Linked DNA regions of Homo sapiens. The protein of the gene in region 1 interacts with the protein of each later gene in a biochemical or structural test. Each region holds a gene or a part of one and is shown on either strand. Other genes may lie near its edges. The genes, in order: PDZD2, CNTNAP4, SLC34A1, GPRC6A, LPXN, ARVCF and SLC2A1.

Region 1 (4,494 bases):
TGTAAACAGGACAAGCCAGGTTCACCTTAGACAGGCATCGGAAACATGCTGGCCTTTGGTGAAAGGGACAAAAGAGTTGGTGTTTATTTTCTTCCGCCTAGGTATCCTGAGATCTCCCTAGGAGTGACAGTAGTGAGAAGGCCCCCCCGCAGTGCAAAGCTCCCTGACACCCTCTCTCCTCCCACCAGCTGCCTGGGGATGCCCGGAGGCCTCCCATGTAAGGCAGCCCAGTTCCCCACCCCCTTCCCCCTACTGAGTACACTGAGATCCAAACTTACCATCTCTCCCACCCTCCTCCCAGTACAACTCCCACTGCCTGAGCTGGCAGGTCCCAGCCAGGGAATTGACTTTGGGGTAGCCACAGCACAAAGCGTGCCCCTGCTCACGGTAGGAATACTAATTCTACACTATATGAGTGCTGCCTTTATTTTTAGCCAAGCAGGATGATGGCTGTCCTGAGGCCAGGACAACAGGGTCTGTTGTGTTAACTTGGATGATAAAGTCTAGGGCTTGTAAAGCCAAGTACTAGAGGTGTCCAAGTGTTGGTAAAAATGAGACCAGCCGGGCACAGCGGCTCACGCCTGTAATCTCAGCACCTCGGGAGGCCAAGGCAGGCGGATCACAAGATCAAGAGATCAAGACCATCCTGGCCAACATGGTGAAACCACGTCTCTACTAAAAATACAAAAATTAGCTGGGTGTGGTGGCACGCACCTGTAGTCCCAGCTACTCAGGAGGCTGAGGGAGGAGAATCACTTGAACCTGGGAGGCAGAGGTTGCAGTGAGCCAAGATCGCGCCACTGCACTCCAGGCAGGGCGACAGAGCAAGACTCCGTCTCAAAAAAAAAAAAAAAAAAAAAGAGACCAAGAGTAACCCCTCTGAAATCCATTTCGACTCCTGCTAAAACACCTCAAAGAACCAGTCTGGGGCATCACTGTGTTAAGGGCCAAATATGCCATGGACGCCCCTTCCTCAGGAAGCTGTTAAAACCATAGATCCTTAACTGGAATGAGCTAAGTTTATTCCTCCCTGAAGGCAAGAGATTGGATAATGCCCTTTCAAGGACTTGCAGATCCTTAAGAATTTGTGATTTTTTAAATCCTCCTGTGGATATCTAGGCATTTCAGGCTGCTTCTTAGACTTAAAAGACAACAAAACTTCCCCCATCTCCTTGCTATTATTTCATTCAGAGCTCGCAACAATTGTGTGTGCAAAATTAATCCTCTGTGCTGTGAAGTCGGTTCCCCCAATGCTGCTTCTCCAAAACCTCTTCAGGCCTCCTACCTAGAGGGCTTGATGAGCCCCAGAAACACTGTATATAAAAACATATAATCCAAGAATAACTTTGTCAACCAGGTGTTCAATGCTATCTGGTTTCATTCAATGGCTTCATAAAGAGAGTTGAGAATCTTAAGTTTCTGATTTTCTGGAAGTTCATAGACCACTCATTATTCACTCAGAACGCATTCTGGTAGGGAATGCATGCATGGAGCAGCCAGAACTTTCAGAATGGAGACTGTTTGCTGGCCCCATCAAGAGTGTGGGGTGAACACACTACTGGCATTGGAGAGAAGCCACGGCCGGGGGTAGGCCTCTTCCTGGAGCTGGAGAGGCTTAAAAGACAAATGTGTCTTCTCCGCATGCTTAGTGTCTTAACAAACCATCTCTCGGCTCAGCCGCCTTATCAGACCACAAAAGGCCTCTTCAACTATTAAGTTTTCAAATTGTAAATGCTCCCAGTGTCTTCTTGAACACATTTGTAAATAGAAGGCAGAACTCTTTAGCTCTCAGACAATCAGACTGAATCAGATGACCTACCTGGCTTCAAACACTCCCCGCTAGAACCCATGGGAAATGTATTCTTTTCCAATTCCATCTTTTCTCTATTTCTAAAGTATGGATAATAGGAGATCAAGATTGTCAAATTTCTAGATACCATAAAAAGATCTATCCTTTTATATGCAACCGATGCATAGGTCCAAATCTAGACATAGACCATCCGGTTGGAAAATAAGGAATAATTTCAGAAAATTTTCCAGATAATTCTATACTTTAATTTCCTTAAAAAACATTCTTCAATGCCTATAATCCCAGCACTTTGGGAGGCTGAGGTGGGTGGATCGCTTGAGCCCAGGAGTTTGATACCAGCCTGGGCAACATGGTAAAACCCCATCTCTACAAAAAATTTTTAAAAAATAATAAATTAGCCAGGTGCGGTGGTGTCTGTAGTCCCAGCTTCCCAGCTACTTGGGAGGCTGAGGTGGAAGGATCACTGGAGCCGGGGAGGTCAAGGCTGCTGTGAGCCGTGGTCATGCCACTGCAGCCTGGGTGACAGAGTGAGACCCTGTCTCAAAAAAAAAAAAAATTATTCACATTTTCCCCAATTTCATTTAATTTGGCACATATCTACTTAGTGTTTAGTAAGTCAAATGCTCCTTTTCTTTCCCGCTTCACTAATAAGTGAGACTGTTTTTTCATCTTTTCAACTATAATCAAAGACCCATTAATAAAACCAAGGGGGATTGCAGATTTTTAATTCTTCCTCAGCCACCTGCATCTTGGCCAACACCACTGCTATTGAAAGACAAGAGTTCCCCAGATCAAGCAACTGTGTTTTGTGACTCTAGTTCTGGTTGTCTAATGGGGCAAGTTCTCTGTTTTTCTGGGCCTTAGCTTCCTCAAATGCAGGTGTTACCGAGTGTGAGTGCATGATGCCCTTCCAAACCATGGAGGACAGAGGAGACTGTCCAGCCTCTTCCTGCCTTGCACCTGGTAACTGGATCTTTGCAAAAGAGAGGGACATTAAATTTAGACGCAGCACTGCAACAAGCCAATGGATTAAAAGGCAGAAATCTTGAAGGATTTGTCAAGGTGCAAACAGGGAGACCCAACTGCTCAGAGTAGTCCAAAACTTTTCATCCACAGCTGAAAGAAAGCTTCAGGCAAGTCTGCTAAAAACTCCTGCCTTCTCCATTCCACTGGGCTCTCACTGACTTTGGTGAGAGGTTTATGCATTTCTGGACACACTGTTCGAAAGGACCCCCTATACAGCAGATGCGGTCATGGAGGGCCTTCCAAACACACCTTAGTACCTCTTTCGATTCCTCCTAAGAACAACCCTGTGAAGTAGCGACTGCATCAATTTTATACATGAGCAAATGGAGGCTTCAACATTTCTAATCATCTGGCCCAGCAGGAAGTTCTCTGCACTGCTAGGATTCCAGCCAAAGCCTCTGACCCCAACTCAGGAGTCCTTCCTTTCCCTCCTGGCTGCCTCCACTGGTGCCAGGTGCCGGGTTTGCTTCCCCTGGCAGGCAGCAGTACCGCAGCCCTTTCCTCCAGGCCCCAGCTTCACGAAGTGACCCCAGGTCTCAGCAAATGCCTCCCCTGTTTTCCTCATTCTCTCCAGGGCCTCACCAACCTCTGCTTCCCTCTGGCCTTCCAGAGAAGGCAGATGCCAGGATTGTTCTTTCCCTGCACTTGCTCACCTCTTCCAGCCCAAACACCCCTGATCTAGCTTCTCTACTCTCTCCCACATCTCTTTTGTTTACCAAACATGCCTGGGAGGGAGAATGGAGGGACTCTCATGAATAAACCCTCCTTCAATGCTACAACCTCCTCAAAATACTGTGGATTATTTTCAAACAGCACACTTCTGGATCCAGTGTCTATACCTGCAGTTTCACTGTCTTGGCAATCATTGTCTCCTTCTTCCCTTGCAGCCTGGCTTCATGAACACCCCTTGCAGACACTGTTCTATCAGTGGCCTTTTCCTATCATCCTTCTGGGGATGGGCGTCTCTGAGACATCCCTGCCTCTCCACTTGTCTGCTAACCTCTCTCATGGGCTTGTCTGCATAGCTCTTCCTGTCCTTGAAACTCAACTCTGACCTCAGCATCCTCCCTGGTGCTGCGGGGATGTGTCTGAGGGCAGAAGAAAGAAGCTGAAAACTTGAGTCTCTAAGTCTGTCTTCTTAAAGAGATTCAGCCTCTCTTTGGATTTGCTCCTGACCTTTTGTGGGTTCATCTTTGGAATTTGTCCCCTTGTGGATGGTGCAGTAGGAGAGACCTTCCAACAGAGATGCCCCCACCACCATGGTCCGAGTCACTTAGGCCCACATGATCAAAGGCAAGGGGGTATCCACAGCTCTGTGTTATCTTGTTCAGCTCACCAGGCCTGGAGCCTCTGGGAGAGGGTTTCCACAACACCCTACAGTATGATCAGCCGGGGGTAGTGGGGTCTGGGGTGTTCCCTCTGCCTCTTTTCCTGTCTAACCTGAGGAAGTTGATTAGCAACTGTTCCAGGCCTTATCTGGGTATGAAAAAAATAAGGCCCTAAAGAAACACACCCAGGGCAGCATGGTGAGTGTGCTAAAGGGTTGTGTAGGAGCAGAACGAGGGGCCAGGTTGGGCGCAGTGACTCATGCCTCTAATTCCAGCACGTTGGGAGACCAAGACACCAGGATCACTTGAGCCCAGGAGTTCGAGACCAGC
Region 2 (4,494 bases), on another chromosome or scaffold:
ACTGCATGTTCTCACTTATAAGTGGGAGCTAAATGATGAGAACACATGGACACATAGAGGGAAACAACACACACTGGGGCTTTTTGGAGGATGGAGAGTGGGAGGAGAGAGAGAATAAGGAACAATAACTAATGGGTACTAGGCTTAATACCTGAGTGTTGAAATAATCTATACAACAAACCCCCATGACACAAGTTTACTTATGTAACAAACCTGCACTTGTACCCCTGAACTTAAAAAATAAAAGTTAAACAAACAAAAGAAGTCCTTCACTATCCTTTAAAAAATATTTTCATTTTGTTTTCACTGACTGAAAGTTTACAGAATGATCTAGCTCCTGAAAACAGTAGGAAGAGTAAGAAAAATGCATCCAACATTGTTATGTGCATGTTCAGATTGTTAGTTGAATATATCTGATGAAATATTAAATCATGCAGACTTTGACCTGATTGTCTTCCATGCTCTAGTGTTTCAATTATTATTTATAGCTTATTTTTCATTTTTATTCATTCAATAATTTTGACCTCAACTTTAGAATTTATCTATAATCATTGAAATTATATTTTTCAAATTAACTAGTATGATAGGGAAGGGTTGACCCATCACAGTGTATGTGCTTAAATAGGAGATGTTTCCTATATTGTTGCATGATGTTCCTATGTTGTGGGTGGTGGTGGCATGCAAATTCTTATAAAATGTATGGATGATTGTTTTCATGGGTATTTCAGTTAGGAATATTTAGGAATACTCTTTAACAGATTTTCAAGAACAGGTCTTGAGTTGTAGCATCAAATGCTAATATCAGTTTGATTTTGATCACTTTAAAAAGAAAAATCTCAGAAAGTGAAAGAAATGCCCCAAACCTCATGCAGACAAAAATTACAGAGTTTTGGAGACCCTGTGATTAACTGAAAACACTGAAATGAAGTAGTTTACCCAGAAGATTAACATTGGAATTGGAAGGATTCAGGGTTTTAAAAACAGGGTTTAAAATCTTAAGAAATAGTAGTTTACCCATAATTTTAAGTTACAACAAATTGTATCTCTAAATAACAAAAATGTCATTGACTGTTGAATTGTCTTCTTATATTTTTGGGGAAAATTTTGATGTCTAAGAGTTTAACACTTAAATTTCTTCCATGAGCTCTTAAGCTGTGATTGTCTGTGTATTGCAATTAAATATGCATGCCTGTATGTGTATGCATGCATTTATTTGACTTTTGAAACTGGCTTTCCTTGTTTTTAATCTATGATTTTTAGGCTCTCCAAAGTGCTGATTACTTCAGGGGGCTGATGGCTCTGTGTTGGTAAAGACCAATCTGACATATAATTGCACAAGCAAAGATACTTTTGTTTCTTAATTGACTTTTGGAGGACAAAGATTTTTTCCAAAACGTCTTTTGTTAGGGTCTTCATAGTTAGTTCATAGTTACTAACTACAGTTACATAGTTCTGTAGTTAGTGAAAAACTACAGAACTGTGTAATGATAAAGAATGTACATGCCAAACGCATTACAAGTTATCATTATTGCTTCAGTTTGCCCATGGAACATTGGTATTTGGAAGAGGAAGTGGATATGCTTGGGTGTTTTTTTTCCCCTCCTTCCAGTGAATTTTCATTATGGTTCATGGAAAAGTGGTACTCTAGTAATAAAACTGGGAAAATAGCATAACAGCAGGTAAAAATGAGCCTGTTTATGTTACAGTTAATGAGTCATTCCAATGTAATAATTGGAGAAGTGAGTGAAGCCTGAAAACATTTGACATTTTAAGTAGTTCAAAATTAGTAACTATAAAATTTTTTAATGCCATAAGTATTTAATAGAGCAGTGATGAAATTTATCTCCAAGGTTTTTAAATCACAACGGAAAAAAATGGTGTGATATTATCAGTTGGCCTATAGCTCTAATTGCTTTTTTTATTAAGTACCTCTCATTACTTGGCAGTGCTCTAGAATAAGATATTATGGGCTTCTAAATCGTAAAAGACATATTAGTTTCTGTAACCATTTTCTTCCCACTGGCAATTATGATACTTATAAATGGGGTCATAGGTTGATATTACTTTAAAAGCACCATGTAAATATATAAATTCACCTGCCTTCCTAAATTACGTTTATTGTATACTTTTTAGAAAAATTATAACCTGTAATTTCATTAATGGACTTACTCTGCAATTATGACCTACGGAAGTATTTTTTTCAATGTCCTTTGAATAAGGACACGGATAAACTCTCCTAGCAATTGGTTGTAAGCCTTAGGGTTGATAGTTGCTTGGATGACCTTGAACAGACATTTGATTCCCTTGGCCCACCACAGAGACCCCCACATTTTCCCATCAATATAAAGCAATTGCCTTTGCTATACCAGGCCCAATAGAGGGATTTCTTGGAAAATCTGAGAAAGTCAAATTTCTAGGCTAATAGCTTTGCTCTAAAAGAGTGCATGTAGATTTATATCTTTAAGACTTGTCTTCAGTATTCAAAGATACTATGTATTGGTATTTTAAAATCTGCTGGTCAGCTGACGACTGACCAAGGACAAAAAAGGAACTAGATTGAAAGTGGTCTTTAAGGGAAATGAGTTGCTGAGATAGAATTATCAGTGTGTGTGTGTGTGTGTGTGTGTGTGTGTGTGTGTGTGTGTGTGAAGATAACTGTGGGTGGGAATTGGAAAACAGACCATTTTGGTAGGGGAAATAGAAAGCATTGCCCCTAGGTGGCACATTTTGAATTAAATAGTGATGGGATGTAGAATAAGATTGCTTCATATTTGCTATCCATACCAGAGTAGTCTCCAGTATGCTTTTAAACCAGTATGTGGGATTAAAAATTAGCAAGAGGTCTTCTTGGCTCTAGTTTAAATTCACCCAAACAGAGAAGTGATATTACCCTTTTGCGATCTCAAAGATCTTTATTTTCTAGGACTCGGTGTAAAGACCTCAGGATCCCCAGTAGTTAACTCAACTTCTTCTCCCACCGTGGGTGCTAGTCTTTCTGAACCTAGCAATGAAGCAGAATATGTTGGGAGAGATTTTGGCTTAAAAATCACTAGATAAATTGAAGCATAATTTAACTCCTGAAGACAATGCGGTAAAGTGATACGGGTGGCAAGAGAAGGGCATGATAAACAAAGTTGAACATTTTTTCACATCTTTCACTTTTATCTCTCAATTTTGGCTGATTTTAAACAAAAAGAATTTATGTCCAAGGCAGAAAGCTGCAAGAATGCTTAGTGATCCTCATAATTAAGGATTTATAATACATATTTACATTTGCCATGTTTTAGATGTTTAGGACTTAATTAAAAGAACATTGCTAAAATAAAAGCAATTCTATCTAAATTGGTGATGAGGGAATTCTATGCAAGGTTGTAAAGCTGCTCAATTAGGCTCTTTTGTTTCATAGTGTGTATGATTTCTGTGCTTATTTGAACTGCTGTACTTTAACATGACAACTGTGTCACAATCCTGTTAAGAAAACTTCATGCTCACATACAGCTTCATAACACTACCTCTTAAGTATCAAAAGATGTAAGCTTTTCTAAAACAAATATACAAAAAATAGCAATAATTTGAGGAAAGAACTAGGGTACATTTAAGAAAGCAAAGAGCAAACACTGTAGATAACATTTAGTTTCTTAAACTCCTAGCATCCTTTATCACAAAATGAAACATGATAAAACAAAACATTTCATGGTCAAATACATACTAGGGGAATGGAAAAAGGAGGCTAATGTAGAATTTTAGCTACTAAAAATAAAATTGTGATCACCATAATTTGCTACGCTTAACACGCAAAACAGCCTGATTCATTTTTTTAACCTGTTCTCTTTGTAAATGATCACATTGGTTTCTTGGAAGCTTTGCTATGTGCTTGCCTGTGGGATAGTTTCTTTATATTTATGTATAATTGCAACATGAACCAGATTAGCATGAAAGTATGTAGGTAGTACCATTAATCACTGAAACATTCTCTAGAGAAGATGTCAGGAAGTTCTCTGTTTTTCTGAGTTAGCAAAATCGAGCCTCCTGTGATCATTTTCCTTTTTCATTTTCCTGGATATGAGGATGATCTGGCTGTGACATCTGTCGTGTTAGCGATGGCCAGGGTTGATTTGGCTGAGATGGCTGGTAAGGCAGCTGTTCCCTCTTCCTTCCTCACTGCTCCCTGTGACCCTGATTCACTCCATTTTATATCATACAATATTTTACCTACTACACATATTATTGTAGTTTTAGGTAAGCTTGACATAATGTACTGTTATATTTCACCAAAGGTACAGATTTTAAGAAAAAGCAAGTTTTGCCTTGCAGCTATATTTCATTGTTAGGCACATCCAACATTAAGTTGAGGCTTATGAACATGGCAAACAAATGTCTTCCTACTCAGTACTTGCTGATCTTTCCACTTTTGTCTGTCTTTACTGCTTGATATAGCTTGGCTCTATTTCCCCCACCCAAATCTCACCTTGAATTGTAATAACTCCCACGTGT
Region 3 (3,452 bases), about 150 Mb from region 1:
GGCAGGGAAAGGGCCGAAGGAGACGCTGGGGGTCCCACTTCCTCTCCCTCTGTCCCCAGGTCTTGGTGTGATCAGCATTGAGAGGGCCTACCCGCTCACACTGGGTTCCAACATCGGCACCACCACCACGGCCATCCTGGCTGCCCTGGCCAGCCCCAGGGAGAAGCTGTCCAGCGCTTTCCAGGTGCGCTGGGAGTGTAGCCTCGCCTGGGGCAGGATGGAGCTGCCTCTGGGGTGTGGGGCCTCACAAAGGTGTGACAACATGGAACAAATATTTTGACTGCCTACTAAGGGCCACCTAATATGCTCAATGAAACCATTATGGGCAAAGTAGACCCAATACCACCCTCGAGACCTTAGCATCTAATAGGGAGACACTGCTCATAATTACACCAATAAATAGCAGTGAGTCGGATTTGCACCATAAGGAAGAGGAAGAGGAAGAGGCACTACAAAAGAGGGCCTGGAGCAGTTTGGGGAATCCATTGCGGGGGTCAAGGCCGCAAATGGCAAAGGGGAATTATTCTAGGAGCAAAGGAGTAACTGACAAGCCAAGGCACTGACTGAATGAGGGTCCAGAAACTGACATCAATCCTTTAGCTGCTGGATTTTGGCAGTATCTGCTGGGGGATTCCTGTGCGAGGGGTCAGTGGGGAAAATGTGGGGAGCTCAGGGCAGTAGTTATTTACCAACTGGTCTAGAAGTATTTCAATATTTGCATAGCCAGCATAGCCACCTCGGGGTGATCTCGGGGCAGGGGGCACATCACCCCTAAGTGGAAACTTTCCTGCTGCCCAGACCAGATCGGGGTTCCTATCATCTACCCCTGCTGGCCTGACACAGGACCTGGGAGCCAGTGCCCATCTCAGCCCCTCTGCCTCATCCCCTGCAGATTGCCCTCTGTCACTTCTTCTTCAACATCTCGGGTATCCTTCTGTGGTACCCGGTGCCCTGCACACGCCTGCCCATCCGCATGGCCAAGGCGCTGGGGAAACGCACGGCCAAGTACCGCTGGTTTGCCGTCCTCTATCTCCTTGTCTGCTTCCTGCTGCTGCCCTCACTGGTGTTTGGCATCTCCATGGCAGGCTGGCAGGTCATGGTAGGTGTGGGCACGCCCTTCGGGGCCCTGCTGGCCTTCGTGGTGCTCATCAATGTCCTGCAGAGTCGGAGTCCCGGGCACCTGCCCAAGTGGTTACAGACATGGGACTTCCTGCCTCGCTGGATGCACTCCCTGAAGCCCCTGGACCACCTCATCACCCGCGCCACCCTATGCTGTGCCAGGCCTGAGCCCCGCTCACCCCCGCTGCCCCCCAGGGTCTTCCTGGAGGAGCTACCCCCTGCCACACCCTCCCCCCGTCTTGCACTGCCTGCTCACCACAATGCCACCCGCCTCTAGGCTGTGGGCCCAGACTACAGCCTGGAATGGGGAAGGCCTGGGGTGGAAAGGCAGGGGAGGGAGGGTGTGTGTAGGTATGTGCATGTGCCTGTGCCACCCTGGGTGCCAGTCTCTCCTTCTGTAGCTCCGCAAAGCTCTGGGCTTGTGTGAGAGTGTCGGTGTGTGTGCATGTGTGGGGGTGAGTCTGCATGTGCACCTGTCATGTGTAGAAGCTTGTATTTGTGTACAGGTGTGCCAGCCCATGCAGGTGTACACAGACACACCTGTGGGAGGCTGTGTGCAGGCTGCAGGATATCTGGGTATGATTTCAGGTCCTCTGCACGTGTACACATGACTAGGATAGGCAGGAGTAAGGGTGGGTCTGGGTATATGACTGTGCAGCTGTTTGTGCATAGATGTTGGTGCCTGCGTTACTGAATTTGCACACCTCCTTGCCACCTTCCTTCCTCCAAGATACCATCTCCTCATCCTAACCCAGGTCTTCGGCACCACCACAATTAATTCCCTTCCCAACACTTGCCTGATGGAAAAAAAACAAAGGAATTAAAACTCTCCTCAGGCATTCGGAAGTCTTTTTGCTCTCCATCAATGGCAAAGGGAAGACCAAGCCAGGGGGTTCAGCAGCACCATCTCCCCTCAAAGACTGGCTGCAAGAGCAGCCTGCCCTGCCCAGGCCAGGTGCAGTTCCAGAGAAGCCAGCCCTGCAGGCTCACCCCAACCATCTGCCTGGCCCTACCTTAGTGAGTCCAAACCACAATTCAAACTCCCTGGAAGCCCCTCCTAGGCCTGGGGCCACCCCCAAGGCAAGTGTAAGGAGGATTCTGCACCCCCACCCCCTGACCCCCACCTGGCTGAACTTCCTCTGGTCTCCCTCTGCCCTCTAAATTCACCCACCTCAGCCACACATCACTCCTTCCTGCTGGGATAAGATCAGGGCTCCAGAATAAGTGACAGGTGGGGTCTGCCATCAGGGCCGCTGGGGGAGGGGACGGGAAGGGTGGGGGTGGGCAAGAGAGGCCATGCCCTGGGCCCCAGCACATGGAGGGCAGGGACCAGACACCCTCCCTCCCACTTTTGTCCACTATCTTTGGGCAATAAACCAGGCCTCAAACTTACCCAAGCTTTTCAATTCCCCCTCCTCCATAGGTCACCCTGAAACTGAGGCCTGCAGAGTGAGACTCCCGGGTAGGGATGCCAGAGTTCCTCCCTCTAGTCCAGGGACTCCTGCGGGGCCTTTTCGAAGGCCTGGGGAAGGCAGGATGTAAGGTCTCAAACCCAATTGCGATGGTCTTGGACATGAGCCCTCTCAGTAGGCTCCCCTTGGAGGAATGTGGGCAGAGATGCAGAGGCCTGTGAGCCCCAGAACTGCTTTACAAGCCACCAAGCCCATCCTGTCACCCACTCACAACTTGCTAGTGCTTGAGGTATGAGTGGAGGGGGGAGGAGCAAATTGGCCTCCAGCCTGACACCCTGATGGGGAGAGGTGTTCGCGGGATGGGGAGGGGGCTCCCTTTACTTGTCCTGCCTAATGTGTGGGAATATCTCTGAGAAAGGACGCTAAGGCTGAAACAGACTTTGAGAAGCCCCCACCCTTGGACTCTTCCTCAGCTGCGGAGTCCCTAGGACCCTGGGAACGCGCCAAGGAGCAGCAGTCAGGCCAGGAGCCTCTGCAAGGCGTCCATGGGAGAGCAGGGTGTAGGGCACAGGGGCCTGGCAGCCTCTAGACTCAAAATCCCGGCTCCACCAGGTAACCGTCTTGCAAAGACCAGTTTCCTTATTTACAACTCCCCCCACCGCGCAAGTGGAGGAGGAGCCAGCCGCGCCCAGGTCACAGTTTATTTGGCCCGCGCTACCAGTGGGCGGCCTGGCTGGCCGGCTAGGCGCCCTGCATGCGCAGCCCGCGTATGAGTTCGTGCACCGTCTTGTTGAGGATGCCCCCATGTACGCCGCGTCGGCCCATTAGCACCAGGAGCGCGCGCGGCGCACGGCCCACGCACACGGCGCGCGCGTCCAGCCCCTTGGTGCGTGCGTCCAGCACGCCGTCACCCTCGGCCAG
Region 4 (4,494 bases), on another chromosome or scaffold:
CAATAATATGTATTCAAAGGCAAACTTGTATGTCCTGAGGCAGAATCATGTTACAAAATATATAAGTTTTAAATTTGTAAGAGAAAAGAAGGTAAAAGAAATGAGACAATTCTTCTGATCATACAAGTGGGTATCTAGAACAAGTTTTTTCTACTTTTGTCATTTTTTTTTTTACTTTAAACACCCAAAACTACCATATTCGAGGTCTGATATGACCAGTTAACATTTGGGAGGATCATGCAATGGTGGGAGGGTATTTTAAATTGCTCACTTTTAAACTACTTTTCACCTTATGAATACAAAGCCAAAAATCTAATAAGGAGGTAAAACTAGAGATTAGGACCTTTTCTCAATTGCAAACACTCTTTTAATATATATATAGTTATGTCTGATGACTTTAAGACACCTATATGAAAGCATTCTCTTTGTAGTATAAAACTTTAATGATGGTGGTAAAAACCATAAATTATCTTTTTTAGATCATCATTATTCACTATATTCCAAGTTCAGTACAATGTTTTCTAATATATTTCAAGGCTTTTGGCCTGGTGCACTGCAGAAAAACTGTTTTAATTTTTAAAATTAGACTACAGTAATAATACCACCACATAGAATTTTAGAAATAAGAGATTGAGAAAGAGAAATAGAGAACAGTTGTGGAGACAGATGACATAAAGTGGAGCGGGGGATGGTTATATAAAGAACCTCATAAGGACAAAGAAATGCAAATAGCAAGAGTTATTCACCCCCTGAAGATCTGGGGAAAAATAGAGAAAGTATTTTAAATTAGGAATAAGTCTCAAACACTTCAAGGATAAGATTTGAGAAGAAATTATCTAAGCAGAGTCTCCTAAAATGTTTTATTTAAACACTAGGAGCCTGGAGTCATTCTTTTTGCCCTCAGAGCCTGTTAATCTAGAAACAAACAGAAACAGATTAGAAAGGAAGAACAGGGGGATGACTTGCTCCTTTGATCAAGACGTGAGTGAGCCACATCAAGTCAGTGCTAGAGTCAGTAAGACAAACAATACAAAGAGTTATCCTTTTATAAAGAAATCTCTGTAGACTTAAACTTTAAAGATCAGCAACATTTAGGGTCCCTAGTCAATGATACATTCTTAAGGATTACTTTGTACCCTAGCAAAATTCACTAATATTTAAATAGCACTTTCTAAATGATTTTAGATGCAAATAATTTTAAAGGGGTTAATTTTTCCCAGTGTTTGAGGATAGCACTTATTTTGGCCCTATATGTGGTCATATTTGTGAGCCATACTCAGGGACACCACAGTCGTGCTTGTTTTACTTCAGCAGATTTTTAATGTTCCTCAGATGTGTGTGGAGGATACCACCTCCTTGCTGTGACTAGAGATTTCGGTTTTTTTGTTTGTTTGTTTTCCTTTACTTCTGATGATATATAAGGTAGTAAGTGATGTATGAGAAAAGAAAGAATGCCTAATAGTTGAACTTCTATTCATATATTTATTTAGCAAATGTTTGGTGTCTCAATGTTTCAGGCAGTGTGTTGAGTGGTGAAGATATTACGGAGAACAGGACAGAATTCCTTCCCTAAAGGAATTATCTGTCCATTGATATATACAATCAAACAAGTAAGGGGCTGATTACAATGAAGGATGGTACACTACAGTGTTTCACATAAACACAAGATGGCAGAGAAGTACATAAGTGAGACAGCTAATCCAGTATTAACAATTCAGAGAACATTCTCCAAAAAACATGACCTCTATGTGAATGCAAGGAAGGGTAGCAGTTAGCCAGAACAGAAATATTCCAGCAAAGTCCCAGAAAAGGGAGAAAAGAAAGCACAGCATCTTTAGGAAGCAGGAAATCATGGCATATGACTGGAGTCTTGCATGAGAGCTGTAATGGACTAACTGAATGAGTGAGTGAAAGACATATTATTAGAGCCTTGTCCATCAGGGCATCTCAAACTTTGATGTGCAGTTGACTTTCCTGGGAATCTTATTATCATGTTAATTCAGTGGTTCCACAGTGGGATTGAAAAGTCTACATTTTTAACAATGTCCCAGATGATGCTGATACTGCTAGTATAGAGACTCCCCCTTAAATGGAAATGTTGCAAACTATGTTCAAAGGTTTGAACTTGACAGAGGATAGGGCAGCTAATTAAAGACATTTTCAGGCAGAAGAGTGATATGATATTTTTTCCATCCAAGGTGAATTGATTAGAGGGACACAAGACTGAAGGAAGAAACACCAATTTGGTAAATCAGACATAAGATAAGAATGCCTACAGGTATGAAAATAAGGATGAAAAGATGTATATATGGATATTTAAGAGGGAGGATGAAGAATATTTGGAGATCAATTGGATGTAAATGATGACAGAGAGCATCAAAAATGTTGCAGATGATTCCAATATTGGACAACTGGTGTCATTTGTCAAGCTGGAAACATAGAGAAAAGTGGAGGTCTGGTGGGAGTAAGAAATATTTAGCATTCCATTTTGGAGATGTTGAATTTGATGAATTTATGAGACATGTATTGTAAGTGTAGCAAGGTAGTTGCATATTAGTCCAGAAGTCAAGAGAGACATGAGAGTAATTTTGGCATGGTAAGATAATAGTAACTAATAATTTTTAAAACATATGGTTCTAGGTACTGATATACACCACCTCTAATCTTTATAAAATATGGTAGGCCGACAGGACTCATCTTCCTTAAATTCCATCTTGAAGAAGTAGTAAGAAGAAGTGTTTCTAGTGACCAAGACTTGTCAGAGTTTAGAGATGGAGGGAACCTTAACAGTAAAGACCTGTCCCGTGGTGATTCACACAGTTAGCAATGAAACTGCTGCCCCAGCCTTAGATCAATGTGTTTTCTGCTTCACAAAAGAAGGTATCGTCTGGGCATCAGGACACAGAGGCAAGGATGTTTCCTCTGCTCTTCTCTAACTTAGCCATGAAGATACCTCTTTCCACAGTAACCTTACTTAATGAGGTAGAGCAAGCATCAGCACAGTTAGGACAATGAAAAACAATATCAACCATATCACTTTAATTGGTGTGATTCCTGGCCATGTGTGCTTAAAAACTAGGCATTATCATACACAGGTGAATAAGATAATAATTGAAATGCAAATCCCATTCTCTAAATTTTGTAGTGTCAATTGATAGTGAATTTCAGAGTCTCCATGAAAATTTTTTTAAATGATATGAAAAAGCAGTTAACAGCTTAATAACTGGAGTGGTAATGTTTAAGATTAACCTTACTTCAAAGCAAATGTTTTATTATATTTAATGAGTAATGAAAATACTGTTGTATTTGCTTCCACCCTGTTTCCTGTAAGAGCAAGCATAAAATTGTGGAAGTTTATTTACATTATACAATTTTATGATTATTTACAGAACAAATACATGTGAGAACTTTAGCCTATAAAGCCTAATTAAGCACAGGAAAAAAGAGGTAGAAATTATAGTTCAAACACTTGTGTGGAAGAGGATGTGCTCCCTAAAGAACTGAGTTACTGGGGTTTACATGTGTATATTGCTTAAGGAAAGAACAGAAGAAACAAACCAGTCAACAGATAGAAGTGAGAACATTGGAGGTAGGCCCTTGCATATTCTTTTATTTTTGTTCTCTCCTCTTTTTTTTCTTCCAGGCAATTGCTAGAATAAAATTTTGTTAGTGAATTCCACCATGTTAGATCTGATATCCTGCTTCTTTAAAGTAACACTAATTAATTGATATTCATTAAAAGAGCTAAGACATCTGTGGGGACATAAATACACACACGTAGACATTCTGCTAAAGTAACATTTCTCATTGATGTTACCATCATAGCTAATCTATTTACTTGAAAATATAACTTATTTTTTATATTCTATTGACAAAAAATTGAAACACTCATAAAAAGTTAACTCAAAAGAAATAGAATAGAATAATTGTCTTCAAATAGAATAATTTCTGCCTTATTCTATAGATTTTATACCCAACAAAAGCCACACAGAACCATAGATTTAGATAATAAATGGGCCATTATGAAAGCATTCAGAGAGGATATTTACTTGACATACTTATATATTAAGTTAATGGTGAAGCCAGAACAGCAGCCTGTTTCCCTACATTCCAGCCTATTGTTCTTCCACTACAGCACAACCTCAGTATGGCTATCCCATTTGTAAACAAAATATTTTTTGTCCTAACTCTATAGTATACAAGCTCTCACTGTGCAAATTAGGTAGCAAGACAGGTAATTTATCCTTATATTTCTTTCTTCTCAAGTTAAAAAATAAATCATTTTGTGAATTAGCTTAGAAATATAATTTAGAGATCACTTTACTACATACTCAATCATTGAAACAAACTTAAGAACCATTGGAGATAATCAGATAGAAAGTAATTGTACTTGCATTGATGAGAGATGGAACCAGAGTTAGATCCCAGGTGTCTATACCAGGGGACCCATTCTAAAATTCTGTAGGATAAACGAAGATACTTAGAAACAACCAT
Region 5 (4,494 bases), on another chromosome or scaffold:
ATGAAATTGCCTACCTTATAGGGTTGTTATGAGGATTTAGAGACAATACAAGCGTGGTATTTAGAATAGTGCCAAGCACATGGAGGTATAGTAGTGTTAATATTATTATCACAGTGTCCTTTTGGTATAAATTCATTTTTTTCTAAAGTTAACATTTGAATCCTTTTTGAAATTGGCTTAGTTTTTATTGTACTTATCACTAAGTTATGCAACAGAACTGTGAAATTCTTTTCAAAATGGCCAACTACATCTGGCAACAAGTCAGTTTCTTTCTTTTCTTTTTTTTTTTTCTGGAGATATCCCTCCAGGAGACTTTCCTCCTCCTGATTCAACATGAAATGATTTCTTCCTGCTGAGTAGCAGTCATTCTGGTTCATTAACTTAGAATTATATCTAGTAATTACTCTTGGAAATTCCTTTTATTAGTTTCCTCTTTGGATGCTCTGTTTCCTGGGTCCCATGTCTATGTTTTATACATGTTACCACCTTTATTTTGGTGGGGAACATCCCCTAGTAGCTTTCTGAGAAAGAATTTTTGAGAACTTGAATATCTGAAAATATTTTTATTCTGTCATTGCCCTTAAGTTGCCTGGGCATAGAATTCTAAGTGGAAACTATTTTCCTTCATAATTCTGAAGACATTGCTTCACTGTCTTCTAGCTTCCATGATTGGCAAGTTTTTATTAAATTTTTTTTATCCTTGATCCTTTCTACATGACCCATTCTTCCCCCTTTGTATGTTTGTTTCATGTGTTTTCTGAATTGTCTTGTTTTTTTTAATTTCTCCTTTTTATGTTTGTTTTGAACAAATATGGAATCAGAAAGCTGCTTTACTTTGTTTTTCTCCTGTCCTTTTAGAATGAACTCAGTGGGGAAGGATTTCTCCTCTCATAAATAAAAGCTTGTGCAGTCCTCTGTCTTTTCTGATTACTGTTAAAAAACAGTTCTAAATATAAAATCAATTTAAGAAACAAAACACAAAAACTAAGCCATTAGGTAATTCAGTCTGTGTAATAGTTAAGGCTTCCAGCACTTTAAAAGTGACAGCCACTCCCTCTCTTTTTTAGGACCTTCAAGCTGCAGGAGGCGAGGACAGGGGTATGGCCTTTCCTCTCTCCTGACCTCGCTTTGTTATCTACCACCCTCACCCTTATTGCCAGCCTTGACACCTGCCTGCTCTAGGGTTGAAACACTAGGGAGGATGGAGATGAGAATAGAAGGCAGGAAGGTCTAACTTGTCTAGGATTGTTGTTAAATTGGCTTTATGCTCTCCAGGCTCAGCCAGTGTTTAGCTCTGACTTTTTTCCCTGAATTCTTTTCGGGATTAAGACAGGTCCAGCAGTGAACTCTTGATTGCCCTTTACGTGTCTTGACTAGCTATTCTCTCCTTGTCATGTTTCTTTGAGGATTTGTTTTGTAAAGATTCTTTTTTCAAGGGGCTTTCATTGTTCCCTCCTAGTGAACCCTTAGAAATTATTAACATCGTTCCAGATAATCTCTTCCTCTCATATTTTCATAGAAGGACCATGGATAACTTACTCTTTTCTCTGACAGCCAGTGGAGTTATAATTTTTAGCTGCATGTTTCTATTCAGCTGCCATAGGCTCTTTCAGCCAGACTCATCTATGGACTTTTTCCAGGGGTAACTCTGATACCACTAACTGCATCTCACTAATGCCAAGGCACACATATCCAACTCTCTGAGTCGTCCCAGTGAAGTCCCTCTTTTAACCTGAGGTTATCAAGAACTATACCTCATCTTTCTTGGTGGTGATGGGGCACTCATAGCACAGTTTTCTTCAAAGGAATCCTTCTCTCAGTTTTCCTTTTTCTTTACCTGTTTTCTCCTGAACAAGAGTGAGGAATTCCAGAATTGTACAAGTAATCTTTGACTACCTGTTTGGAGGGATGTTTTGCAGTTCAATTTGGAATTTGATATATATTACATCTTGGTGCCTTACATTTGTTTACACTGGTCTTTCCCAATACTGCTGATCCATGGTTGTCTGTTACTATTTAAGAATGAGACACTAAAATGCTAATTGCAAACTCCATGGATATAGACAGAAATTGTTGACTGGTAGACTTGACTATATGGTACTCAGGTAAGATACTCTGGCCATTTTGTTGAGTGACTCCTGAATATGACAATCTTAGGTCTTTTCTGTTGAGTCAATTATGCTAAAGAGATGTTCTCTTTGCCAGAATTCTGAGATTGAAAAAGGGGATGGGGGAATGGGCTTTTCACCATTCAGCATGTCAACTTTTACTTAATTCCCATTTTTCAGTAGAGAGCTTGACTCGTTTCCTCATGGTGTCCAACATCTCTGATCACTGAGACTCTCTTGTTCAATATTTACAGAAATAATCATTGCATCTTACGGTAAGATAAGGCATCTAACTTTCTAATGGTTCTTTAGACTTTCAACCAGTCCTGTTTCTAGCCTTGAAGAGTATCTCATGCATTCAGTTCCTGAGCCCCTCTGATGTTATCATATTCAAGATGGCTTGATTTTTATTGGCCTCTCCCATCTGTGGAGACGTAAGTTCCAGTTTTCTTATTTATGTTAAGCCAGGTACCACTCTTAAAATCTACTTTAAATTCTTGAAAATTTAGTTAATATCTCATCTGGTGGCATATCCTTTACTTTTTTCTCTTTCCTTATGGCTCTTTATAATTTACATAATTTCTTAACTGTCATGTTAATGATGTTTCAGGAGGGAGTAAAGAAAATCCCATGTGTTTAGGCCCTTTTACTAATATGGAGACTTTCCTAAATATCAGGCATATTATTATGTATATGGTTAAAAATAATTTATATGATGCCATCACAGTCTGTGAGAGCAAGTTTATTCAACATTTTACCTAGTTATAGATGAGTCTCAGGTAGGTAAAGTGATTTTCTTAAAGTCACACAGTTAGAAAGTTGAAGAGGCAAGATTTCAACTTGGGTATCATTTCTGCAAGTTCCATGTTTTTTATAAAACATCACAACTGCCTTTTGACTGAAATTCAATTCCTCTTCGGCTGTTGGATCTCTTTACTTTTGTGGTACCAACACGATATGCTTTATTTGACAATAGACCCAGATACAGTGGTGCTGACAGAATCCACTAGCAAAGTGCTCTGTAGTAATTTGCTTGTTCACTGGAGCTTGCTCAATGCTTTTTCACAAATCATTAGGTATTTCATTTCTAGATGGTATTTTACCTAAGCAGCATTTTTCATTGACACTTAATCCAAATCATCTTAAATTGTGTCACAATAAATTTATATTGTACTGGTAGCCATAAAAGTCTGAGAATTAGTTGAGTACAACAGTCAACAAGTGAATACTGCCTATGGATCATTATGATGGAGAAGTTGCCTGAAAGCAGAACAACAGGACATAGGCACATTTCAGGTAGAGACATAAGTTAGATACACACACAAAAAAATACCCAATCCATAGGATGACCAGAAAGCACCATTAAGGTAGCTAGTTCTCATTTTCTTGACTCAGGCCCCTTCTAAACAGACAGGGCTGATGGGGTCATTTATGGCTTTATATAAACAGGAAACAACACTTAAAACATATTTATACATAGAGCCACATGACAAAAAGTGACATTTATTGATCAGAAGCTCCACTTGGGTTGTATTTTCCTTTTTATGCCTGGCTTTCTGTAAAAAGGTCTCCTGCCATATGATCAGTTCATTAATTAGGTGTCATCCTGCCTCACCCCAAGTTAGATAGTCACAAAGAGTTTCTATAATGACAGTTTAACCTCTGAGCCTCCTGGGAAATTAAATTCATCTGCATTTTTTCATCAGTCCAAAGAATTCCTCTTTAAGGCTCAAGTCATTGGTCCTTGGCATCCTCCCACAGGGATGAGCTCTTCAATGTCTACCTGTGTTTCTTTTTAATTGTTCATTATCCAGGTCATGCAGGTGCTCCCTAATTTCCCCTGTGGCTAAGAGCCTCACCAGAGTATAAACACTCTCCCTCTTTTTGTGGCACTTTTAATTGTCAGTATTTCTCATTCTTCCTCTAGAGGTAATTGGTCCCAAAGAGATCCTCCAAGAAAGCAAGAGCTGAAACTTTCTTAATTTATTAGATTATGAAATGCAGGGGTATCACAGCAAGTTTGGGTGATTGCTTTTGATTTCTTTCCTGAGATTTACCCAAGTTGAAACAGAGGCTGTTACTCCCCTGCTATCCCACTCTCGAAACCAGCTGTCCAGCAGATGCCTAGATGAGGGTCATTTCTCAGATAGTTGGCATGTCTTACAGTTTTCTCAAGTAATGCCTACCTATAGGCAAGCTCAGTTTTGTGTCATTTGCTTTATGCAGCATCAGCATCACCTGGGGACTTGTTAGAAATGCAAAATCTTGGGCCCCATCCCAGACCCATTGAATCAAAAACTCAGGGTGGAAGACCCAGCAATCTGCATTTTATCAAGTTCCCAGATGAATAATGCACACTAAAGTTTGAGAAACACTATTATGCTAC
Region 6 (4,494 bases), on another chromosome or scaffold:
AATAAAAAAAAGTTCTGAAATTGGTTGCACAGCAATGTGAACAAACAACACTACTGAATTGTACACTTGAAAATGGTTAAGATAGTAAATTTTGTTATGTGTATTCTACCATAATTAAAAATTAAAATTAAAAAAGAGGCTCCCTGGCCAGGCGTGGTGGCTCACGCCTGTAATCTCAGCACTTTGGGAGGCCAAGGCGGGCGGATCACGAGGTCAGGAGATCGAGACCATCCTGGCTAACATGGTGAAACCCCGTCTCTACTAAAAGTACAAAAAAAATTAGCCGGGTGTGGCGGTGAGCGCCTGTAGTTCCAGCTACTTGGGAGGCTGAGGCAGGAGAATGGTGTGAACCCAGGAGGCGGAGCTTGCAGTGAGCCGAGATCGCGCCACTGCACTCCAGCCTGGGCGGTAGAGCGTGACTCTGTCTCAAAAAAAAAAAAGAGGCTCCCTCACATAATAAGTAAGAAATTGCATAATACCCTTTTATTTATTTATTTTTTGAGACGGAGTCTTGCCCTGTCGCCAGGCTAGAGTGCAGTGGCGCGATCTCGGCTCACTGCAACTTCCGCCTCCTGGGTTCAAGTGATTCTCCTGCCTCAGCCTCCCGAGTAGCTGGGACTACAGGCGCGTGCCACCATGCCTAGCTAATTTTTGTATTTTTAGTAGAGACGGGGTTTCACCATGTTGACCAGGATGGTCTTGATCTCTTGACCTCGTGATCTGCCTGCCTCAGCCTCCCAAAGTGCTGGGATTACAAGCATGAGCCACCGCGCCTGGCCTACCCTTTTGAAATAAATAGTATATCAAAGGTAAAAATTTAAGGCTGGGTGCAGTGGCTCACACCTGTAATCCCAGCACTTTGGGAGGCCAAGGCAAGTGGATTGCTGGGGCCCAGAAGTTCGAGACCAACCTGGGCAACATGGCACAACCCTGTCTGTACAAAAAATACAAAAATTAGCCAGGCATGGCCGGGAGCGGTGGCTCACACCTGTAATCCCAGCACTTTGGGAGGCCGAGGCGGGAGGATCACCTGAGGTCAGGAGTTCGACACCAGCCTGGACATGGTGAAATCCCATCTCTATTAAAAAAAAAAATTTAAAAATTAGCTGGTGATGGTGGCAGGCACCTGTAATCCCAGCTACTCGGGAGGTTGAGGCAGGAGAATTGCTTGAACGTGGGAGGTGAAGGTTGCAGTGAGCCAAGAATGCGCCACTGCACCCCAGTCTGGGTGACAGAGCGAGACTCCGTCTCAAAACAAACAAACAAAAAGGAAACAGTTCAGATGCAGCTGTAAAAACAAAGTTAAATCCTTGCCGTCCATTTACATCAGAATAAATACTAGTTTGTGCTATGGGCTGAACGTGTCCCCCAAAGTTCACGTGTTGGAAACTTAATTCCCAACGCAACAGTGTTGAAGGTAGGACCTCTAAGAGGTGTTTAGGTCACAAGGGCTCTGCTACATGAATGGATTAATTCCGTTACAGTGGGAGTGGATTTGTTATCTCGGGAGCAGGTTACTGATAAAAGGATGGGTTCCGCCTCCTTCAGCGCTCTCTCACGTGTGCTCCTGCCCTTCTGCCACCTCCTGGGGGATGTAGCGACAAAGAAGGCCCTCGCCAGATGTGGCCCCTCAATCCTGGACTTCCCCATCTCCAAAATTGTTAGAAATAAGTCTTTGTTTTTCAGGAATTAGCCAGTCTCAGGTATTCTGATACAGCAGCCCAAAATGGACTAAGACAGACAGATTAAATGCTGTGTACAAAACTAAAGTAAAAATACCTTCTAGAAGAAAAGACAGGTGCATCTTTATCTGGCTGCATGCTAGGGAGAGTTGACTACACAGAGAGACGGAATATCTAAAAATGGGGAAAAATCCAACACACTTCACCACAAAATATGAAACATTTTTGACATCAAAATGATCATAAACAAAAACTAAAAGGGTGAGAAAAATGTGCAGTAGGCAGAAAGAGGAGTGAAGAATTAATATCTTTAATATACAAAGACTCATACAATGGCTGAGAAACACATCAAAACCCAAGAGAAGGCCTGTCATAGGGGCCAGGCGGCCGCAGGAGACGAAGCCGCAACCCCCTGCAGGCACACGGCGGCTGATGGAGGAGGCCAGGCTGGTGCTGGTCTCTGAGAGGACACCACTGCTGGCCAGCTATGGGAAACGGCAGGGCATCTGTGTCCCCGCCAGCCCTTCTCACTCAGGCCTGGTCTCAGCACGCACCACCCCATCACACCCTCCCAGCTCCCCCTCCTAAGGGAGCCATGCTACTCATCACCATCTTGTAACCCCACAGTTGGCCACTGGTTCCTCTGTGTGTTGTGGATCTCCTCAACCAGGCTGGGAGCTCCTCAGGGGCAGGGCTGGGCCTGATGTGCCTGTGATGCCCAGGACCCAGCATGAGGCTGGGTGAGTGGGTGCTGAGTGTGGTGACACATGGGTGTTTACATCAGCCCCTGTCCCAGCTGAGCCCTGAGGCTCCCTCCCCAGCTGCCTCCCGCTGTGGACAGGACCACACCCCAGGGCCCAGCAGAGCAGGCAGCCGCAAGCCAGAGCCCAGGTTGCCCAAGCCAGAGCAGAGATGGCACAAATGCCATCACCCATCGCACCAGTGCCCAGGGCAGACATGAAAAACCAATCACCACAGCAGACAGGAATAAGCAATCACCACATTCCAGATGGGCAGGATAGGAGATGGGGAAAGGCAGAGAAAGAGGCACAGAGAGGGCCACAGAGAAACATAGAGAAGACCAAGAACTGGAGGGGGGAGGGAAAAGAAGGGACAAGAAAGGAGCAAGCAACAGGAGGGAGAGTGAGCAAGTGTGCCTGGGCAGCCTCGGACCTGCCCAGCCAACCACCCTCCTGCGGACCCTGTTACCAGGGCTGTCGTTTGGTGTCTGGCTGACCTGGCCTCCCTGAAGTGTGGTGACCTACGAGGAGTTAAGGGCAGTGGGACAGCCCCTCCTGCCACCCTGAGATGCCCTGTCACCTGTGCCACAAGCAAGCCAAGTACCCTGCCTGAGCTTCTTTGTCCCAACCCAGAAGACCCTGCATGGCCAAATGGCCTGAGCAGTGACATTCTCGGCCAGACGCTGGTCCTCCCACACAGCCAGGCGGCAGCAGACCCAGCTCCCACTAGGCTGGCCCGGCCGGCAGCTTTCCATGCCCAAGGACTTGGGAACAGGCAAGGAGTCAGTCATCCTGTCCCTCCCATCTGCCCTAGATCCCTCAGCCTAGGTCACTCAGGCATCCGGAGGCCATGGCCTTCTCCCTACCACTTAGGCACAGCACTGGCTGGGCCATGCCTCCACAATGGGCACTAATTGTCACTGAGAAACCACAGGGCTGTCAGCCATGCCTCCCACAGAGACTGCTTTTTGGGGGGACAGGCAGATGGCCAGGGTGGGGACTGGAGGAACAAGAATGGCCAGGAGCCATTCTCTTAAGCCATCACCCACTCTGCTGAACAGCACCCATCGTGGCAAAACTCTGGCAGCGTGGATGTGAGCAGGGTATGCCTTACCATCCTTCAGAGGGTCCTGGGGGACATGGACCACTCAGCCTCCAACCCTGCCATGCTTCCCAGGCGCTATGCCTCAGTCCCACTGGAGCTAGCAGCCATGATAAGCAGAGGAACCCCAAACACAGATAACACCTGAGGCCACGGGCCAGTACACATGGCCTACGGCTGTGATCAGAGTACATTCAGACTATTCAGTTATGGGCTGTCTGCAGCCATTTTCATCCTACAATGGCAGAGAACTGCAGCTGTGACAGAGACCATAAGGCCTGCAAAATTGAATTACTTACTATCAGACCTTTTCAAACAAAGTTTTGTGTGCCTGGCCTCCAGGACTATCCTCTGTCCCTGTGGCTCCAGTCTCTGGGGGGCAAGCGAATGGCCTGGCCCAGCAGGCTGTGCCAATACTGGATGCCACTGCGGCTGGCATCCTAGCTCAGGCAGGTGAAGAGCAGACCCAGTGAATGTCCAAACCAACACTGACCAGCAACCTCGTCAGCCAGCCCCAAACAGGCTTGTCCCTAAAGCCAGACATCAAACCAGTGGCTGCTGCCCATATTCAGGCCAGTAACAAACCCAAGCTGGTGGCAGGAGGCCCTCACATCCACCCTGTCCAGCCCAGGGGCTGTGCCTACCCAGGGTGAGAAGGACCAGGAGCACACAGTGTCCAGGGCCAGTCCATCCCTGTCACCCCCACCCGCCAGGCCCACCAGAACACTCTGCTGTCCTATGTGGGAGAGGATGTCCCCAAGCTAAACCCAGGCCACTCACCTGTCTTGAGGGAAGATCAGCATGTCCCGACACCCACCCTGCAGGCTCTGGCTCCTGCAGGGAAACCAGAGGGCATGAGTGAGGTCAATCCAGCTGGGTAGGTCCCTGCCGGATAAAGGTACACAAGCCCAGACCGTCCTCTAAGCAGGACCTTGTCATGCCTGATCTGAAGGTCATCCCGTGGTGCTCC
Region 7 (3,500 bases), on another chromosome or scaffold:
TGAGGCCCACAAAAATAGAGGGACTTGGCTCAAGAACATGCAGTGAATCTGTGGCAGAGCCAGGCCCTGGCCCTCTCTTAGGGAGGGGTGCAAGGGGAAAGGAAAAGGAAGACTGGGTCCTGGCCCCTGGCTTGCTCACCCAGGCTGCATCTCCCCCTGCAGGTGATCGAGGAGTTCTACAACCAGACATGGGTCCACCGCTATGGGGAGAGCATCCTGCCCACCACGCTCACCACGCTCTGGTCCCTCTCAGTGGCCATCTTTTCTGTTGGGGGCATGATTGGCTCCTTCTCTGTGGGCCTTTTCGTTAACCGCTTTGGCCGGTAAGTAGGAGAGGTCCTGGCACTGCCCTTGGAGGGCCCATGCCCTCCTGCCCAGGGAGTCCCAGATGGGGTGGGAGGTAGGGGAGACTTATCTGCCTGTTCCAGGGTATTACCTCTGACCCAGCCCCTCGGAGCCCAAGGAATGTGGGCACTGGCCTGACCTGTGACCCCGTCCCCAGGCGGAATTCAATGCTGATGATGAACCTGCTGGCCTTCGTGTCCGCCGTGCTCATGGGCTTCTCGAAACTGGGCAAGTCCTTTGAGATGCTGATCCTGGGCCGCTTCATCATCGGTGTGTACTGCGGCCTGACCACAGGCTTCGTGCCCATGTATGTGGGTGAAGTGTCACCCACAGCCCTTCGTGGGGCCCTGGGCACCCTGCACCAGCTGGGCATCGTCGTCGGCATCCTCATCGCCCAGGTAAGCTGGGGCAGGATCTACCTGCCTGGCACGGCCCCTGCCCACAGCTTCAGTGGCTCTCGGATCTGTGCCCAGCAGGGCAGAGTTTCTCTTCCGCCCAGCCCCCACAGCCTTGCAGAGGACAACTATGGTACACAGGTCCAGAGAACACAGCACCATGGCCTCCCAGTTGACAGCAAGATGACTTGACTCTTCTCAGTCCCTTTCTTCTCACTCTAGGCTTCCAACCACAGGGCCCGCCTTCCCCCAACATGCCGCAGGCTGTTATGCACAGTACCCTCTCTCCAGGAGGCTTCCCCTTCCCTGTCCCCAAAACCCTCTTGTGGCAGAGTAGCAGCCCCCATTCTCTGTGCTGGACACATCTGTGGCCTTGTCATTTGTCCTCCCAGCAACACTGTGGGGTAGGTCCTACTTTTCCCATGTGACCGATGAGGAAACTGAGAAACAGGGCTCATGCTAGTGGCAGAGCCTCTAGAACTGGGGCCCTTCCCTGAAGCAGCAGCTGACACAAAGTAGGGAAGGCCACTCTGGCAGGACGGGGTGGGAAAGGGGGTCAGGGCAGAGGCGCTCACGGCCCCTGCTTCCCCCAGGTGTTCGGCCTGGACTCCATCATGGGCAACAAGGACCTGTGGCCCCTGCTGCTGAGCATCATCTTCATCCCGGCCCTGCTGCAGTGCATCGTGCTGCCCTTCTGCCCCGAGAGTCCCCGCTTCCTGCTCATCAACCGCAACGAGGAGAACCGGGCCAAGAGTGGTACGGGCATGGCCCTGCCCTCCTCCCCACTCCCTGAGCCCTGGCCTTCTTCCCACTCTGAGCCACCCTCACCTTCCCTCCGGTCCCCCCAGTGCTAAAGAAGCTGCGCGGGACAGCTGACGTGACCCATGACCTGCAGGAGATGAAGGAAGAGAGTCGGCAGATGATGCGGGAGAAGAAGGTCACCATCCTGGAGCTGTTCCGCTCCCCCGCCTACCGCCAGCCCATCCTCATCGCTGTGGTGCTGCAGCTGTCCCAGCAGCTGTCTGGCATCAACGCTGTGAGTGCCCCCACCCACCCTTCCTGTGCCCCAGCCAAGCCCTCTGGTCAAGTGTGCATGGTGAACAAGTCCCAAACTTGAAACAACAGATACGCCTCTGCCGAAGAAGTTTCCCTTTAGACCCCAAGCCCGTAAGGTCACTGCAGTGCAGTGTCCCTTCTGCCTGAGTATTTGTCCCCTTCATTCTTTACTCATCCTGGGTCCCACATCCACTGCTACAGAGGCAGGGAAGGGCCACAATGTCCAGGTAGGCCCCAACAGTTTCTCTTGTCTGGCAGGTCTTCTATTACTCCACGAGCATCTTCGAGAAGGCGGGGGTGCAGCAGCCTGTGTATGCCACCATTGGCTCCGGTATCGTCAACACGGCCTTCACTGTCGTGTCGGTGAGTCTTTGCTTACTGGCCCCCCCAGCCAAACCCCAGGGAGGAGGCAGTGCCATCTTCCCCACTGGTCTTTGCAGTGCCCTGTGACTTTCTCAGCTCTTGAGGCAAGGCCTCTGGGTGGGTGGGTTCAGAAGGGCACTAGGCAGGGGTGGCACTGACACTGTCTCTGCCCACAGCTGTTTGTGGTGGAGCGAGCAGGCCGGCGGACCCTGCACCTCATAGGCCTCGCTGGCATGGCGGGTTGTGCCATACTCATGACCATCGCGCTAGCACTGCTGGTGAGTTGCTAGGTTCTGGAGAGTGAGGGATGCGGGAGAGTTTGCCTGGGCTTCATATCCCAAAATGCCTGTCTCAGCCCCAGGCTGGCAGGCCTTTTGGTGGCTGCATTCTCCCTGGCTGTGGGTCTGACTTTCTGGCTCCTGAAGTTGTCTCCTTCCAAACCACACACATCCTCTCTTGAACTTGCTCCTCCCTGCTTGATGGATTCTCAGCGCAGCACCTCTGGTCCCAGACCCCAAACTCTCACCTCCTTAAGGAATTGCTTTGCCTAATATTAACCCTTTCCAATCTTCATCTGTAGCCTCAATTCATCTTCACAGCAACCCCGGGAAGTAGTGCTGTCCTCCCCATAGAGGCGCAGAAACATGCCTTGCCTCATTCAGTTCACACGACTGGAGGTGTAGTTCAGTTCTTCCCATTTTATGGGGGAGGAAGCTTAAGTCCCAGTGAGGTTAGTAACTTGTCAGATAAAGGATGAAGCCAGGAATCAACCTCAGTCCCAGGCCTGTGACTGTGACCGCTGTGCTAACCCTGTGCCTGGCACTCACACACAGGCACTCGTTTATTTAGCCTCTGGGCAAGGAAAGCACCATGACTGTCATTTTACAGCTCAACCTGGGCTTGGAAAGTTTGGTGGTTGCCGAAAGGCCAGACAGGCAGCAAGTGGAAAGCCCATAAATTTTCTACCCTGGCCTCCTCAAGAATGGTTATATGCAGAACCGTATGCTTAGCGCTTACTCTGTGCCAGCCTGAGCTGGGCACCTCACACGCCTTAGAACCTGAATCCACCCCACCCCCAGGAATGTTCTGCATCCTGCCACAGGCGGACTGTGCTGCAGGCACAGACAGGGGACCATGGGGCCTCTTAGCACCGTCCACATGCACACCACATTACCACTCCCAGCGGGTGGACTCAACACTTGCAGCCACCCTGCAGGACTTAAATCATTTTGTTCGGATGAGGAAACTTAGGCCCAATGCTGGATACACAACAAATCCAGGACCATCCCCAGGCTTCCTGCCTTCTCGCATAGCTCTGCTCTGGCCTCTGTAGCTTCTGTT

The links.
Region 2: the proteins of PDZD2 (region 1) and CNTNAP4 interact in a test that uses a peptide from one of them, tested with the Homo sapiens proteins (one large-scale study listed by IntAct).
Region 3: the proteins of PDZD2 (region 1) and SLC34A1 interact in a test that uses a peptide from one of them, tested with the Homo sapiens proteins (one large-scale study listed by IntAct).
Region 4: the proteins of PDZD2 (region 1) and GPRC6A interact in a test that uses a peptide from one of them, tested with the Homo sapiens proteins (one large-scale study listed by IntAct).
Region 5: the proteins of PDZD2 (region 1) and LPXN interact in a test that uses a peptide from one of them, tested with the Homo sapiens proteins (one large-scale study listed by IntAct).
Region 6: the proteins of PDZD2 (region 1) and ARVCF interact in a test that uses a peptide from one of them, tested with the Homo sapiens proteins (one large-scale study listed by IntAct).
Region 7: the proteins of PDZD2 (region 1) and SLC2A1 interact in a test that uses a peptide from one of them, tested with the Homo sapiens proteins (one large-scale study listed by IntAct).

Annotation. Positions count from the first base shown.
Region 1 is NC_000005.10:31,641,700-31,646,193, reverse strand, and holds part of PDZD2 (PDZ domain-containing protein 2), read right to left. Parts: intron 1-4,494.
Region 2 is NC_000016.10:76,283,572-76,288,065, forward strand, and holds part of CNTNAP4 (contactin-associated protein-like 4 isoform 1 precursor), read left to right. Parts: intron 1-4,494. UniProt on the Homo sapiens protein: Presynaptic protein involved in both dopaminergic synaptic transmission and GABAergic system, thereby participating in the structural maturation of inhibitory interneuron synapses.
Region 3 is NC_000005.10:177,396,891-177,400,342, forward strand, and holds the end of SLC34A1 (sodium-dependent phosphate transport protein 2A), read left to right. Parts: intron 1-59; coding exon 60-184; intron 185-892; coding exon 893-1,396; 3' UTR 1,397-1,958; downstream 1,959-3,452. Other genes in the region: PFN3 (profilin-3), read right to left, coding at 3,273-3,452.
Region 4 is NC_000006.12:116,801,042-116,805,535, reverse strand, and holds part of GPRC6A (G-protein coupled receptor family C group 6 member A isoform 1 precursor), read left to right. Parts: intron 1-4,494. UniProt on the Homo sapiens protein: Receptor activated by multiple ligands, including osteocalcin (BGLAP), basic amino acids, and various cations. Activated by amino acids with a preference for basic amino acids such as L-Lys, L-Arg and L-ornithine but also by small and polar amino acids.
Region 5 is NC_000011.10:58,544,243-58,548,736, reverse strand, and holds part of LPXN (leupaxin), read left to right. Parts: intron 1-4,494. UniProt on the Homo sapiens protein: Transcriptional coactivator for androgen receptor (AR) and serum response factor (SRF). Contributes to the regulation of cell adhesion, spreading and cell migration and acts as a negative regulator in integrin-mediated cell adhesion events.
Region 6 is NC_000022.11:20,006,151-20,010,644, forward strand, and holds part of ARVCF (splicing regulator ARVCF), read right to left. Parts: intron 4,359-4,494; 5' UTR 4,305-4,358; intron 1-4,304. UniProt on the Homo sapiens protein: Contributes to the regulation of alternative splicing of pre-mRNAs.
Region 7 is NC_000001.11:42,927,869-42,931,368, reverse strand, and holds part of SLC2A1 (solute carrier family 2, facilitated glucose transporter member 1), read left to right. Parts: intron 1-162; coding exon 163-323; intron 324-502; coding exon 503-743; intron 744-1,333; coding exon 1,334-1,496; intron 1,497-1,588; coding exon 1,589-1,776; intron 1,777-2,054; coding exon 2,055-2,159; intron 2,160-2,335; coding exon 2,336-2,437; intron 2,438-3,500. UniProt on the Homo sapiens protein: Facilitative glucose transporter, which is responsible for constitutive or basal glucose uptake. Has a very broad substrate specificity; can transport a wide range of aldoses including both pentoses and hexoses.